Linked DNA regions of Homo sapiens: region 2 is linked to region 1. The links come from fine-mapping of genetic effects on gene expression. Tissue or cell type: spleen. Region 1 holds a variant in brackets; the other region holds the start of a gene. All regions are shown on one strand. Distances are from middle to middle.

Region 1 (8,260 bases):
CACCTTACAGCAGGTTCAGAGATGGAAAAAAAAATGGGAGGAAGCCAGGAAGGAAACACACACAAAAGGCCAGCAGGTGGCTCAGGATGCTTGTGAAAGGTAGTATCCCAGCTGTGCAGGAAGCAGTGCAAGGAGGGTAATAGGTGTTCCCTTATTTCTATGAGAATATGCAAAGCATTTGCTCAAGGAGAGTTGGTTTTCTCAGTGTTGAAGCCAGCCATCTTTTCTTTTCTTTCTTTTTTTTTTTTTTTTTTTGAGACAAAGTCTCGCTGTGTCACCAGGCTGGAGTGTAGTGGCACAATCTTGGCTCACTGCAACCTCTGCCTCCCAGGTTCAAGCGATTCTCCTGCCAAAGCCAGGCATCTTTTCACGACTAAAAGCAAGTACCTGTCTTAACCAAGGCCTCAATATTGATGGGATTTGGTCTCTGACACATGCACAGGTGACCTGTGCACCTAGGGCTGCCTGGCAGCTCTAGGAAATGGCAATTCTGTCAGGTACTTGGCACAGAAAGTCACTGGCCTTCTTTGGAGGATGCATCATTTATGGAAACACTTCTTTATTGGATCCTGGGTCTCGGGTGGAAAACCAGGTCCCACATCAGGACTTTCTCTGTGAGGCTCCCAGGTTCTGGGGCTCCAGCTGCTGTCTGAGAGGAAGGTGTGGAGACAGAGAACATAGCCTAGAAGAGCCTGGAACTGAGACTTCCCCTTACCGAGGTTATGCAAATGAGGTTCTTGGACTACATATTCTGATTGGATGAGAAGAAAAACCTCTAGATCTACTCTGATTGGGCTTTATTTGCATGTTCTGATTGGATGAGAGCAAGTCTTAGGACAACCAATCAGAACATGATAACAAAGTCCAATCAGAGTAGGCCTAGAGGTTTTCCTCATCCAATCAGAACATGTAGCCCAGGAACTTCATTTGCATAAATTCTCATATATAAATGATGCCAAGTGGGGGGAGTTTTGTCATTCCAAGCTCTCCTGCGTCAGCTTGTGTAGCTGGTTAGTACTGGCTTAGAGGAAAAAGAAAACGAGTCACTTCCTGAGCACACTGGAGTCTGGAAGCTTAGAGGAAAAGGAGGAGGAGCAACTTCATTAGCACAGTGGAGGCTGGAGCCTGCCGTGGCTCACCTCGCTGCTGCCGTTGGTGCGGGCCAGGGAGACTAGAGCGCAGCCAGAATGGTAAAATGGTGGTGGGAAAAGTTCGCCATCCCAGGCCGTACTGCCTGTGGCGTGGCGTGGTGGGGTGGGTTGGAGGCCCTATCCAGGGCGTTACTGCCCGTGTTAGGAGGCTGGTTGGATGTGGTATCTGGGGCCTCACTGCCCACAGAGGGGAGTGGGTTGGGGGTGCTATCGGGTGTGCGCTGCCCGTGGCTGGGGGTGGGTTGGAGCACTATCCCAAGCTGTACTGCTAGCGGCAGTGGGGAGTTCTGGGGGCACTATCTGGGGATGCAGTGGCCGTGGCCGGCGGGCGAGTTGGAAGAACTATCGGGTGTTGCATTGCCCTTGTCAGGCACGGGTTGGGGGCGCTATCGGGTGCTACTCTGCCTGCGGTGGGCGGGACGTGTTATATCCAGGGCATCATTGCCTGCGTCTAGAAGCTGGCTGGGGGCATTATCCATAGCTGCACTGCCCACAGCAGGGAGCAGGTTGGCAGCACTATCTGGGGCTGCAGTGCTGTGGTGGGGGACGGGTTAGGCTCATTACAGGGTGCTACACTGTTGGCAGCAGGGAGGGGGGTGTTGAGGGCGCTTTCTGGGGCCTACACTGAGACAGAGATAGCAGGATTTATTGGGAGTGCTACTGGGGGCCAGACTGCCCGTGTAGAGGGGGTGGGAGGCTGGTTGGGGGCGCTATTGAGGGACGTATCCACTGCCCGTTTTGGGAGGGGGCGGGTTGGGTGCTATCAGAGGTCTGTACTGCGTGCCAGGGAGCTGGTGGGTGTGCTACCTGGGGCCACATTGGTTCCGGCGGGGCGGGTTGGGTGCGCTATCGGGGGCTACCTTGCCCGCGCAGGGGGTGGGTTGGGTGCGCTATCTGTGGCTGTACTGCCGGAGGCAGGGAGTGAGTTGGGGCGTCTCCCTGGGTTGCTGCTCCCAGTGGGGAGCAGGTTGGGGCACTATCCGGGGTTGCACTTCCCGCAGTTGGGGGGCGGTTTGGGTGCCATATCAGGGCATTACTGCCCCCAGCAGGGGTCTGGTTGGGGGCACTATTCGTGGCTACACTGTGTACGGCAGGGAGCGGATTGGGGGCGCTATCCCGGGCTGCACTGCCCGCGGCAGGGGGCGGGTTCTGGGCGCCATTGGGTGCTGCAGTGTCCGAAGCAAGGGCAGGTTGGGGTCGCCATTGGATGCTACACTGCCGGTGGTTGGGGGTGAGGTGTTGGAGGCGCTATCTGGGGGCTACACTGCCGGCGGCGGGTTAGGGGTGCTGTTGGGGGCTGCGCTGCCCCCCTGGTGCTGGTGGTGTCAGTGACGGGTGGTCAGAGGAGCGGTCCTCGTCTCCCCGGACTCCAGACTCTAGAGGGCCATCTCCTCCTGCTGGAGCGCGGCGGATGCACAGCGTTTCCGCGGGGATCCTGAGCACAATCCGTCACCTAGACCAGCCGTGGTTCCCAGGCCCGCGCCCTCTATGTGTTGCGGAAACTGCCTGGGACCCCCGGGCACGCAGTAGCTGACACTACGGGGTGATAGGGCCCCGTGGGTGGAGGCGTCAGGAACGGGAACCAGCACTAGGGTTGGGAGGGCTGGCTGGGGTTCAGTTTTTGCTGCTCCTGCTTCCCGAGGAACGCAGCCAGGGTGGGCCCAGCGGTTCTAGTAGAGTAGGAAGCCCGGGCACTGTGGTGTCTCCAGTCCCCACTCCAGGCCCTAGTTCCTGGCCAACTTGGGCCAAAAGGAGAGGCTGGACTTTGGAGGGTGGGCGTGAGTGCCTTCGCTGAAACCGGCCTCTGCCATCCAGTGGCCAGCATGCCAAGGTGAGGCTCTAACGCTACCACTCTCTGCATCCTGTTCTAGGCTTTCTTGGCTTTGCCTGCCCAGTTGTTTCATGCCAGGAGGAGGAGCCGCCTGCTGGAGGCTGGAGCTTGTGGCACCACCGCTCGCCTCGCTGTGGTTGGTGGCGGCCATGGAGACTAAAGACTCAGCGCTGGAGTGGTAGGAGGGCGGCAATGAAAACTGAAGAGCACCAGAGCGGTAGGATGGCGGCTGGCTGCCGCCAGGGCACAGGCAGTGCAGTGGTCAGGTGTTAGGAGCCTTGTAGGGTGGGCCTGTGCGTTGAGGGTGACAGCAGTAGTAGTTGTATTAGCATCGGTGCTAGTTGTGGCAGCAGCAGCAGCAAGTTTGGGGGCCGGGAAGGCAGGTCGGAGCGTTGGGGGGCAGCCCTGCCTGGCCTGGGGTGGGTAGGAAGCTGTGGGCCTCTGTGACAGCGGTGGAGGTGCAGCCAGGGGAAGGAGGAGTCTTCCCCGCATCTCCTGCAGAATCTGGAGGGCGCCCTCCTCCTGCTGGCACCTGAGTCAGGTGTGAGTGGCACCATTATGTTATTAACAGAAGTTTGGGGGGTAACTATTTGTGTATCATTTTGCTTGGTTTTTTGTCAGGGTAGTCTTGGACTTTTTTTTTTTTTAATTTCTGGGGTACATGAGCACAACGTGCATGTTTGTTACATATGTATCCATGTGCCATGTTGGTGTGCTGCACCCATTAACTCGTCATTTGCATTAGGTATATCTCCTAATGCTATCCCTCCCCCCTCCCCCCATCCCACAACAGGCCCTGGTATGTGATGTCCCCCTTCCTGTGTACAAGTGTTCTCATTGTTCAATTCCCACCTATGAGTGAGAACATAACGATGTTTGGTTTTTTGTCCTTGTGATAGTTTGCTGAGAATGATGGTTTCCAGCTTCATCCATGTCCTTACAAAGGCCATGAACTCATCATTTTTTATGGCTGTGTAGTATTCCATGGTGCATATGTGCCACATTTTCTTGGACTTTTTTAAATTTCATGAATCAGGAAGGGGACAAAATGTATAATAGGTCTCCTTGATTCTCTTACCTGTTCTTTTTCTTTTTTTCCAGCCTGGTTTTTCTTCTGCTTATCATCATTTTCTTGTTCCTGTTCATTTTCTTATGCTGCTGCTTCTATTTCTTGTGTCCTTTCTTGTTTCTCCTCCTCCTCCCTTTGTTTTCTTTATCACAAGCAATGGCCTTAACAAACAACAGTCCAAAACTGAGTTAAAAATAGACGACTTGTCATTGTATTCCACCCGCCCACCCCCCCCCCGCCCTCCCCCCACCGCCCCCACCCTCCCCCCACGCCCCCCACCCCCGCCCCGACGGAATCTTGCTCTGTTGCCCAGGCTGGAGTGCAGTGGTGATCTCTGCTCATTGCAACCTCTGTCTCCCAGGTTCAAGCAATTCTCCTGCCTCAGCCTCTTGAGTAGCTGGGATTACAAGCGAATACTGCTGTGCCCGGCTAATTTTTGTATTTTTAGTAGAGATGGGGTTTCGCCATGTTGGCCAGGCTGGTAT[T/C]GAACTCCTGACCTTGTGATCTTCCCATCTCAGCCTCTCAGAGTGCTTGGATTACAGGCGTGAGCCACCTCGCCGGCCCAGTGTGTTGTATTTTAAAAATGATCGGTCCGTTATTGTTTTAGAGATGAGGAAAAAATCAGTTGGATAATTATTTAGATTCTTGAGTAGCTGTGCTTTCATATCCTGTTAATTCGTTGTAAGTAGTTATTTGGGGAATCAAAAAATGAAGCGTCAAATAAAATATTGGTTGCAAACAGCCATTTTCTCTCTCTCCCATATTAGTCTGGAGATAGGCAAGAGGCATGGAGGTAATAAGTTCCAGTGTATGAGATCATTAAGAGAACCATATTCCCTTCATTTTATTTCTCTGCCACCATTTTCTGAGAGTATTGTCATCTGCATAAGCAAATTTGGTTCATCACATCGTTGCAACAGGAAAAGGAAGGGGAGGATCATGTGGAATTATAATGTTTTTAGGGCAAGATTCACAACCAAAAACAATGCTTCACTAACTTTTGCCTTTAAGAACCTGCAGTGTTGAGCCCTCTTTTATTCCTAATGTTACTACCTTTGTTATGAACTTTTTTTTTTTTTACTGATTTCTCTAGAAATTTATGCATTGTATTGACTGCTTTAAGGAAACAATATATATTGTATCATTTTTTTCAAGCCAACAAATATATAAGGTCTATAATTTTTACACTTTTAAAATTATTTTTAAGGTCATGAATATGTAAAATACTGTTGATATGTGTAAAAATATGCCTAAGTACCACTATATAGCTTATTTTGAAGACGTGTCTAAATTTTTGTCCAGAGTAGATCGGTTGCAGTTTCTTAGGTGTGTTTCTCAATACATAGCCTTAGTGTTTTAAAGCATATAGAAAAAATTTGAATACCGTTAACCTCATGTAGTCATTTGTTTACAGATTAATGTTTCTACAGACTAAAGGCATCACAGTCTCCTTTAAGATTGAGTAATATTAATACAATTTGAGATATATAGGGGTAGAAGCCAACAAATTCAGAGGAAAATTGTTAAATTATATAGCTGTAGATGAGGACATGAAACCCAGGTTCTAAGCTCTAAGGGGGCCATGAGCTACCATACCAAGTGCATCAGTGACTGGGCGTAGTGTTAGCAGACTTTTACAGGATGGTTGAGTGAGCTTTGGAGCCTAACTGTATGTGTACATGAATTTTTAAACTGCGTGGCACTTCCGCGTATCCATCTTTACAATGGGGGCAGTATTAAGTTTTTCTTCTCAGTTGACTGAATTATTTCGGTAGTCTTTGTCTTGCTGTCACTCTTGATGGCCACATGAGAGGAGCTAAGGTAATTTCTGGCAGCCTGGGAGTCCTTGGGAAAAACAGAAGGTGCCAGAGACCCCATTTTAGGAGGAGCCTCTGTTTTCCTCATGGACCCCCAAGAAGTGTAAGCAGACAGGTCCCTCTCAAAACCTGGGGAAGGCTCTGCTTTGTTTTGCCTTGCTTTAGCTGACCTTTTTGTTGAGGGCGGGCATCAGAAATTAGTTGGGGAAAGAGAGCTAAAGAAAGTTGCGGATAAGAAGGTGTATTTATGGTAAAGAAGGTTATGAAGGAAAGAGATTTTATGGGAGGGAGGATTTTGTATTACAAATTCTTGTCCTAAAGTAGAATGACTATTTAGAAAAAGAGAGAAATATAGGACAAGTCAGAAAGCCATAATATGGGAAAGAAAAACTTAGAACTGCTCAATCTTGTCTAGAAGTGCTGTATGTGTGATGTTTGTATAAAGGAGTTCTAATTAACTGGCTTTAAAGAGAATGAAAGCTCTCAAATACTTCTTAAGAAAAATAGAAGCTCTAATGCCTTTTAGTTCATGTGATTTCAGTAATCTTTGGGGAATAAAGGCTTTTAAAAGTTATTGGTAAAATGAAAATGTCTTCAAAATTTAGACATTTGGTGTAAATTAAGTCAGAGGTTAAATTTGCTAAGTGCTTTAATGTCATAGACCACTTCTTTGACTTTAGAAAATTGTTCAGATTATGTGGTTTGGAGCTGTTAGATTTCTATGTAAGGCCCTGGGACAGGTGGAGTTAGCCATGCCTCCTAGCTATGCTAGAAAGAGTTGACTTTATCTGCAGTTCTGTCTTGTATCCTAGACTCTGCACCTGGTACGTAATTAAAACTGCTTATACTAAAAAGAAATATTACCTGTTTTTGATTTTTTAAAAAAGGCGTGGGAAGGCCGGGCGCAGTGGCTCACGCCTGTAATCCCAGCACCTTGGGAGGCCAAGGTGGGTGGATCATGAGGTCAGGAGATCGAGACTATCCTGGCTAAAATGGTGAAACCCTGTCTCTACTAAAAACACAAAAAATTAGCCAGGCTGGTAACACACGCCTGTAATCCCAGCTACTCGGGAGGCTGAGGCAGGGAAATCACTTGAACCTGGGAGGCAGAGGTTGCAGTGAGCCGAATCGCACCACTGCAGTCCAGCCTGGCGACAGAGCAAGACTCTGTCTTAAAAAAACAACAACAACAAAGAGTTTTGTCTAAACTTAGAAATTTTAAGTATTATTTTTAGCTGAAAGAAAATAAAATTTAAGCAAGTTATGGGACATTTATGAAACTTAACTTTGTAAAGAATTGTGTGTCTGAGCGTGTTGACCAAAATGAAAAGGGTATTATTTAGTTCTTCCATAAATTAAATATTAAAACAGAAGGCACTGAAACAGAGCCAGAATCTGGGCCCATATGTCAAAATAATAGGGTTTTTTGGAACATTGATCAGTTCTTTAACAAGAAAAAATGTTATAAAGAGTTATAAATAGTTACGAAAATCTTACCTTATAGTCATTAATTAAAACTGGATAGATTCATAAAATTTTATTATTAAAAAGTAGCTTTAACATTAAAGATGTACTAACGTAAAAATAAAATTTGGTTTCATATTGAGTTCTTTCTTTTGAGAAATCCAAGAGCTCTCTCTGGGGTCTGGATCGGGACCCTTTTCTGGTAACACCACCACCCCCAGCTCTCCCCTCCTTCCTGGCCTCCACTGGGAGGCACTCCCCTGGAGGAGCAGCTGCTGCTGGCCCCCACCAGACTCAGCACAGAAGGCCAGGCCTGGGCTGCTGCTCTGCCCTCACCTACCCAGGAAATGAGATGGATACACACAGGAGAGTTGGCCTGGGTGGGGAGGGCATTCTGGAAGCCTGCCTTGGCTCTCTGGGTCTTTGGCCAGTAGCCACAGAAATGGAGACTCAGTTCCTTCAGCAATCTGTGTTTCTACTGCGTGTCTGGCACAGAGCGAAGTCCTGGGGTGGGGCCCTGGAGGTGTCCTGGAAAAAACGGGACACCTCCCTGTCCTCCAGGAGCTCACCCTAAGTCACAGAAGCCCATGTTTATGGAGGATTTACTATGCAGACTCTCTTCCTTAATTCTCACCACAACCCAGCCGTCAATGCTGTTATTATCCCCATGTGAAGTATCCAAAAAACAAGGTCCAGAGAGGGGAACAGATTTGTCGAAGCTGATCAGTGTTGGAGCTGAGAACTGGAATTCTGTTCTTTAAATTGAACCGTTTTTTAATAGGCATTGATTTTTTTTTTGTGGGTAATTTTATAGTTATGAGTTCATTTTCTTTTTTTAATTTTATTATTATTATACTTTAAGTTTTAGGGTACATGTGCACAACATGCAGGTTTGTTACATGTGTATACATGTACCATGTTGGTGTGC
Region 2 (8,000 bases), 97 kb after region 1:
CTACCATTCCACTCACGAATTCTATGTATTTGACCATTTGGGGTACCTCATATAAGTGGAATTACGCAATATTTGACCTCCTGTGACAGGTTATTTCACTGAGCATAATGTCCTCAAGGTTCATGCACATTGTTGCATATTGTAGAATATTCTGCCTTTCAAAGGCTGAATAATATTCCATGGATGCATATACCACATAGTCTTTATCCATGCATCCACTGATGGACATTAGGTTGTTTCTGTATCTTTTGTGAATAGTACTTATGAACATGGGTGTGCAGATATATCTTTTTGCGATGCCAATTTCAATTTTTTTGGATACATGCCCAGAAATGGAATTGCTAGATCACTTGCAATTTTTAACTTTTTGAAGAAGCTTCATACCGTTTTCCATAGGAGCTGCACCATTTTGCACCCTCAACAACAGTGTACAAGGGTTCCAATTTCTCCACATCCTTGATACTTGTCTTTTTTTTCTTTTTTTTATAATAGCTATCCTGACAGGTGTGAGGGGATATTTCATACTGGTTTTGATCTGCATTTTCCCGACGATTAGTGACGTTGAACAATTTTTCATATACCTCTTGGCTATTGGTTTGTGTTTTTTTGAGAAATGTCTAAGTCTTTAGCCCATTTTAATTGGCTTATTAGTTTTTTTGTTTTTGCCATTGAGTTGTGGGGGGTTATTTTATATTTTGGAATCAACCATACTTCCTCTATTCAACATAGCATTGGAAGTCCCAGCCAGAATAAGTGGGTAAGAAATAGAAATAATTAAAAGGCATTCTAATTGGAAAAGAAGTAAGATCATCTCTATTCACAGATGACATGAGATCAGGAGTTCAGGACCAGCCTGGCCAACATGACACAACCCCATCTCCACTAAAAATACAAAAATTAGCTGGAAATGGTGGTGCATGCCTGTAATCCCAGCAACTCGGGAGGCTGAGGCAGGAGAAGAATCACTTGAACCTGCGAGGTGGGGGCTGCAGTGAGTGGAGATTGTACCACCACCCTCCAGCCTGGGCAACAGAGCAAGACTCTGTCTCACAAATAAAATAAAGAATACATAAAGAAAACCTTAGCTGGGCGAGGTGGCTCACACCTGTAATCCCAGCACTTTGGGAGGCCAAGGCGGGAGAATTACCTGCGGTCAGGAGTTCAAGACCAGCCTGGTCAATATGGTGAAACCCCATCCATCTCTGCTAAAAATACAAAAAATAGCCGGGCATGGTGGTGTGTTTCTGTAATCCCAGCTACTCGGGAGGCTGAGGCAGGAGAATCGCTTGAACCCAGGAAATGGAGGTTGCAGTGAGCCAAGATTGTGCCATTGCACTCCAGCCTGGGCAACAAGAGTGAAACTCTGTCTCAAAAAAAAAAATTAAAAAAAAAAGAAAACCTTGCTGGGTTCAGTGGCTCATGCCTGTAATCCCAGCACTTTGAGAGGCTGAGACAAGGAATTACTTGAGCCCAGGTGTTCAAGACCAGCCTGGACAACATGGTAAGACCCCCACCTCTAAAAAAATGAAGTTAGCCAGGCATGGGTGGCATGTGCCTGTGGTCCCAGCTATGGTGGAGGCTGAGATGGGAGGATCACTTGAGCCCAGGAGGTTGAGGCTGCACTGAGCCATGCTTACCTCACTGCACTCCAGCCTGGGTGACAGAATGAGACCCTGTCTCTGAGAAATAAAAAGGAAATTCTACAATTCAACAGCAACAAAAATACAACATAAGGCTATTCTGGGTACACTGCCAATGAGGTAGTCCTGCTCCACAAGGAGCAGTGTAAAAAAGAATACAACATAATTTTTAAATGGATGAAGAAGTTGAATATATCTCTCTCCAAGAAGATGCACAAATGGCTATAAGCACATGAAAAAATCAACACTACTAGTGATTGTGTTAGAAGTGTAAATCAAAACTATATTGTGATACCCACTTGATACCTACTAGCCTGTCTATAATTAAAACATAAATGACAAGTATTGAAGAGGATATGGAGAAATTAACTCTCCTATGCACTGTGGAAAGAATGTAAAATAGTGCAGCTGCTGTGAACAACAGTTTGGCAGTTCTACAAAAAGTTAAACACAGAATTATCACATGCAATTCCACTTCTACATATAGACTCAAAAGAATTGAAAGTAGGGATTCAAACAGATCCTTGCACACCAGTGTTCTCAGCAGCATTATTTATAATAGCCAAGTATAGAAAGAACCTGAATGCCCATCAACAGTTGAATGGATAAACAAAATGTGGTATATATGAGTATTGGAATATTATTCAGCCTTAAAAAGGAAGGAAATTCTGATACATGCTACAATATGGATGAACCTTGAAAATGTCATACTAAGTGAAATAAACCAAAGAGGAAAATATTGTATGATTTCATTTGTATGAGGTACCTAGAATAGGCAAATTTATATAGTAAGAAAGAATAACAGAGGTTACCAGGGCCTGGAGAGAGGGAGGGATGGGGAGTTAGTTTTTAGTGGGTACATACTTCTGTTTGGAGATGATGAAAAAGTTCTGGAAATGGATAGTGGTAATGGCTGCATAACACTGTAAATGTACTTAATGCCAATGAATTGTACACTTAAAAGGGATTAAAATGGTAAATTTTATGCTATGTATGCTTTGCCACAATAAAAAATGAAGTATAAAAGAAGAATTTCTGGGCTTTCCGTTTTTTCATGTGTGTTTTTGGTTTTGTTTTTTTGTTGTTGTTTTTTTTGTTTGTTTTTGAGACAGGATCTTGCTCAGTTGCCCAGGCTAGAGTGCAGCGGCGTGATCATGGCTCACTATAGCTTTGACCTCCCAGTCACAGGTGATCCTCCCTCTTCAGCCTCCCAAGTAGCTGGGACCATACGTGTGCATCACCACACTCAGCTAATTTTTATAGAGACAAAGACTCCCTATGTTGCCCAAGCTGGTCTTGAACTCCTGGCCTCAAGTGATGCTCTCTCCTTGGCCTCCCAAAGTGCTGGGATTACAGGTGTCAGCCACCGCATAGGCTTTACTTCTAACTTCTTCTTGGCTGTAGTCCAGGAGTCTTGTTTCCTGAGTCCTCATGATCCCCATCACATGCTTCCAGGTTGATTCACTCTTTGTACAACCCTCTGACCCAGCGCTCTCCACAGCTCTGCCCTCAACTCACCACATATGGTGCTTGAAGAGCCACTTCCTTTCCTATACAGGCCACCAATGTCTTTTTGTGGCACATGAAACCCACTTCAGAGAAATGTGGGACTTTGGAATCCACGAAAGGCATAATTCACTTCACTGTCAAGGGATATAGCTCATTGGTCAGAAACTGTATCTGTTCTCTGAAGGACCATTGCATTCGGTCCCTCCTGGCTGGTTTCTGGTACCTTCTAGTCTGTCCTTCTCCCCTCCTTGTCTGTCTTCATTTCTCTCAAATCCCCCCTCCACCTGGGCAAATCTCTTTAAAGACCCTGTCTTTGCACTCAGAGAACGCCCCATGCTCCACCTCAAATTCTCCCCTCATTTCTGGCCCTGCATCCCTCATTCTCACACTCTACCTAGGCTAGCACTCACTGGTGGAGGGCTGGGGTGCCACAGCTTTGGAGAAGAGGTTTAAAGGTCTCCATATCCAGGAGCTGGCTCTGATATCTCGCCCCACCTGCCTGAGGCTGATCATTAACCCAGAACTTATATAAAGATGGCTCATGCGTGGAATGGGTATAGCACTGCCTGCAGCCATGGCCAGTACGGTTAGCCCCAGCACCATAGCTGAGACCCCAGAGCCACCTCCATTGTCTGACCACATCCGAAATGCTGCTGACATCTCAGTCATTGTCATCTATTTTCTGGTGGTGATGGCTGTTGGGCTGTGGGTAGGTGGAATCCCAGTGGCTTTTAGGGTGGGCACAAGGTTTAGGAGGGGGTATCTTAAGGGGGGAAGGGGTGTGGTTGTGACAAAGCTTTTCACAAATGTCATTGTGTTATCAGAATCATTTTCTTGTGTGTTGCATAAATAACGCTTACAATGAACTAATGTATTCTCCTAATAACCCCATCGTGTGCACACAGCCAGCACCGGGACCTTCAGATTTACTATGCATCCCCAACACCTGGCATAATGGACAAAGAGTGTATTTTTATTATCGCATTTCTTTCGCTTTCTTTTGTTGTTTGCTCACTTTCTGATTTAGTGAGTTGGACTCTTCATTTATGTTGAATTTTTTTATTTTAATAAATTTGAGACTGCAAATTTTTTTTTTTTTTGAGACGGAGTCTTGCTCTGTCGTCCAGGCTGGAGTGCAGTGGCGCTTGCTTGGCTCACTGCAAGCTCCGCCTCCTGGGTTCACGCCATTCTCCTGCCTCAGCCTCCCAAGTAGCTGGGACTACAGGCATGCGCCACCACGCCCGGCTAACTTTTTGTATTTTTAGTAGAGACGGGGTTTCACCATGTTGGCCAGGATGGTCTCGATCTCTTGACCTTGTGATCCACCCGCCTCGGCCCTCCAAAGTGCTGGAATTACAGGCGTGAGCCACCGTGCCCGGCCGAGACTGCAAATTTTATTGCAAGCATGGCTCAATGATACCTCACATGGTTTTCATAAGTGAGAATAATCAGAGCAGTTAAGATAGAAGTTAAGGATTATGATTTTTTTAAGTTCTTCCAGCCCTGGGTTTTTACAAAGCGACTGTTTTTGAAGTCCTTTAAAATTTGATGCTATAGAACACTTTCCAGCGAAATGTTTCTCTCTGTAGGAGTGCTGAAGTCACCCCTCTCAGCACCCTGGCCAGAGCCTCTGGGGTGTCTGGGTGCACTTGCTGGGGCTTGACCCTCACCTGTCTTCCCTTCTGCTCAGGCGATGCTGAAGACCAACCGAGGTACTATAGGAGGCTTCTTCCTCGCTGGTCGTGATATGGCCTGGTGGCCGGTAAGTGGATCGAAGTTTTCTGGAGATAAATTTCCTGTGTGTGTGCTTAAAACTGAATGTAGGCTGGGTGCGGTGTCTCACGCCTGTAATCCCAGCACTTTGGGAGGCCAAGGCTGGCAGATCATCTGAGGTCAGGAGTTCGAGACCAGCCTGACTAACATGGTGAAACCATCTCTACTAAAAATACAAAAATTAGCTGGACGTGGTGGTGTGTATGCCTGTAATCCCAGCTACTCAGGAGGCTGAGGCAGGATAATCACTTGAACCTGGGAGGCAGAGGTTGCAGTGAGCCTAGATCACACCACTGCACTCCAGCCTGGGCAACAAGAATGAAACTCCATCTCAAAAAAAAAAAAGTGAATGTAGACAACATTGGGAATGTTGATCATTTCTGATGTACATTGGTTGCCTACTCGCTGGGGCTCCTTTCCTAAATCCCCGACTTCATGGCTCCTCTCTGTAATTCCAGGACATTACAATATGTCACCTATTATGACAGCCGGTTCAGTCTGGCACTGAAGGACCCCAGCTCAGCCCCACCTTATATTCTTTTCTTCTGCTCCTTATCAAGAGTCTTCTCCTGGCTTCTTACAAGCTCTGCGCATTCCTGCTTTGTTGCCAGTCCTGAGCTGATGCTGGCCCTCTTGTTAGGATTGGCCTCCCCTTGTCTGCTGTCCTCTTTCAATGCCTCACCTCAGCCCTTTCTCATCTGAGGAGCCTCCCGGCTCTCTCCATGGGTCCCTATGTCCCATGCAGTTATTGGTTGTGTTCCCTGTGATGGTGCTAATGCTGATGCCTCTTGATTCTTGCCCAGTGGGTGTTCTTGTGGGGTTTTGATGTGTGACCCCCTCAGCCAGGGTCCCACTGCAGCAGAGGCTGTATCTTCCCCTCTGCACCTGGAGAGTGTCAGCCCAGCATCACATTATACAGTGGGTGCTTAGCAAATGCTTCCTTCACAGATCTGACTCATTTTCTAAATGGTATGAGGGGAAGTGGAGATGGGCAACTGTCCTGGCTGGGGTGACTGAAGCAGAACAACTGGAAGTTTGAAATGAATTTTATTTGGGACATCCAATCAGACATTGCATTTTTAGGACTGTTTAGTGAAACATGCAAGGAGGCTCAAGCGATCTTGAAGCCAAAAACCAGCTCAATCCCATCCTCTGGCCCCATGTAGCTGAGCAGAAAAAGTGATTTTACAGAGGCCTTAAAAAGTGGGAAGAGCCACACCCCAATTCTCTTCTGCTAGGACTGGTGCTCATCTACGTCCACTCAAGAGACCTCTCTTGGTCTCTGGGTCTTTAGAACAGCAGACACTGTAATGGCGAGGGGATGAATGAAAAGAGTGTCCTGTGGCTGGGAGGATGGAGAGAAACTCCCTCCTAGCCAGCTTGGGGTCTTTGCATATGATTAAAGGGAGAAGAGCTGATGGGAGATCTGGCAGTGCTTGGCCAAGGACAGGCTCAACTCAGAGCATTTTAGTAGATTGACCAATGCTCCCCCAAGACAGGGGCCAACGAGCTTTTCTGTAAAAGGCCAGATTGTAAATACTTTAGAGTTTTCTAGACATATAGTCTATTGCAGCCACAGAACCCCGCTGTTGTAGGACAAAAAGCAGCCCAAGTCCATATGGAAAACCAATGAGCACGGCTGTGTTCCAGACAATGAAATTTGAATCATACAATTTCACAAGTTTACAATTTCACATTTCACAAAATATTATGCTTACTTAGATTGTTTACCATTATTTAACAATGCAAAAATGTAAAAAAACATTCTTGGCTCGTGGGCCATTCAGAAACTGACTGTGGGCTGGATTAGCCCAGGGGCCATTGTTTGCTTGACTCCTGCTCTGAGGAGTAGTGACTGAAACATCTCAGCATCTGTCTATTTTCTTTTTTTTTTTTTTTTTGAGACAGAGTCTTGCTCTGTCACCCAGGCTGGAGTGCAGTGGCGCGATCTCCGCTCACTGCAGGCTCCACCCCCTGGGTTCATGCCATTCTCCTGCCTCAGCCTCCAGAGCAGCAGGGACTACAGGCGCCCACCACCACGCCCGGCTGATTTTTTTGTATTTTGAGTAAAGATGGGGTCTCACCGTGTTAGCCAGGATGGTCTTGATCTCCTGACCTTGTGATCCACCCGCCTCAGCCTCCCAAAGTGCTGGGATTACAGGCGTGAGCCACCACGCCCAGCTACATCTGTCTATTTTCAAGAAGTCTGATTTGGATCTTTTAACTCCAACCCTAGTCTGTTCTCTTGCATTCCAGATGGGCGCCTCTCTCTTTGCCAGTAACATCGGCAGCAACCACTATGTGGGGCTGGCTGGGACAGGAGCAGCTTCAGGAGTCGCCACCGTAACATTTGAATGGACTGTAAGTGACATCATAGGCTTTTTCCTTCAAATCAAAACCATATCCAGTGTCTTAGTATGTTTTATGCTGCTATGACAGAATATCACAGGCTGGATAATTTATAAAGAACAGAAATGTATCTCTGACAGCTCTGAAGGCTGGGAAGTGCAAGGGCTGAGGGACCCACATCTGGCAAGGGCTTCTTGCTTCATCGTCCCATGGTGGAAGGTGGAAGGTGGAAGGGCAATAGGGCACGAGAGAGAGAGAGAGAGAGAGAGAGGGATGGAGGATGAGAGAGAGAGAGAAAGAGACAGAGACAGAGACAGAAGAGAAAAGGGGAGGAGAGGGTGAAACTCATTTTTTAAAATCAGGAACCCACTCCTACTATAACTAACCCATTATCTCAATAATGGGATCCATCTGTTTATGAGGGAAGAGCCCTCATAACCTAATCACCCCTTAATGGTCTAACCTCTCAATACTGTTGCATTGGGGATTAAGTTTCCAACACATGAACTTGGTGGTACACGTTGAAACCATAGCATCCAGGTATATTAATGGAAGTCATATCCCAGGTTTTTCTGGGTGTCTGTATAGAATGTTCTCCTCTTTGGTTTTTTTTTTTTTTTTTTTTTTTTTTTGCTTATTTGTTTGTTGTTGTCTTCTTTGTCAATTTTAAGTTCTGGGATACATGTGCAGAACCTGCAGGTTTGTTACATAGGTATACATGTGTCATGG

Evidence for each region. PIP is the estimated chance that this variant, and not a neighbour inherited with it, causes the effect.
Region 2: it holds the start of SLC5A4, and the variant in region 1 is fine-mapped to the expression of SLC5A4 in spleen (GTEx, PIP above 0.99).

Annotation. Positions count from the first base shown.
Region 1 is chr22:32,347,777-32,356,036 of GRCh38, reverse strand. It overlaps a transcript of SLC5A4 not described here and a transcript of RFPL3 not described here. Among named protein-coding and RNA genes, the nearest start is that of RFPL3, 6.0 kb to the left of the region's middle. The variant T/C (reference allele first, on the strand shown) is at 4,537.
Region 2 is chr22:32,251,053-32,259,052 of GRCh38, reverse strand. SLC5A4 (solute carrier family 5 member 4) reads left to right here and starts at 3,706. Exons shown (of 15, transcript NM_014227.3): 1 at 3,706-3,858; 2 at 4,840-4,911; 3 at 7,179-7,283. The coding sequence starts at 3,724. All of the region lies in intron 2 of SLC5A4-AS1 (SLC5A4 antisense RNA 1), which reads right to left.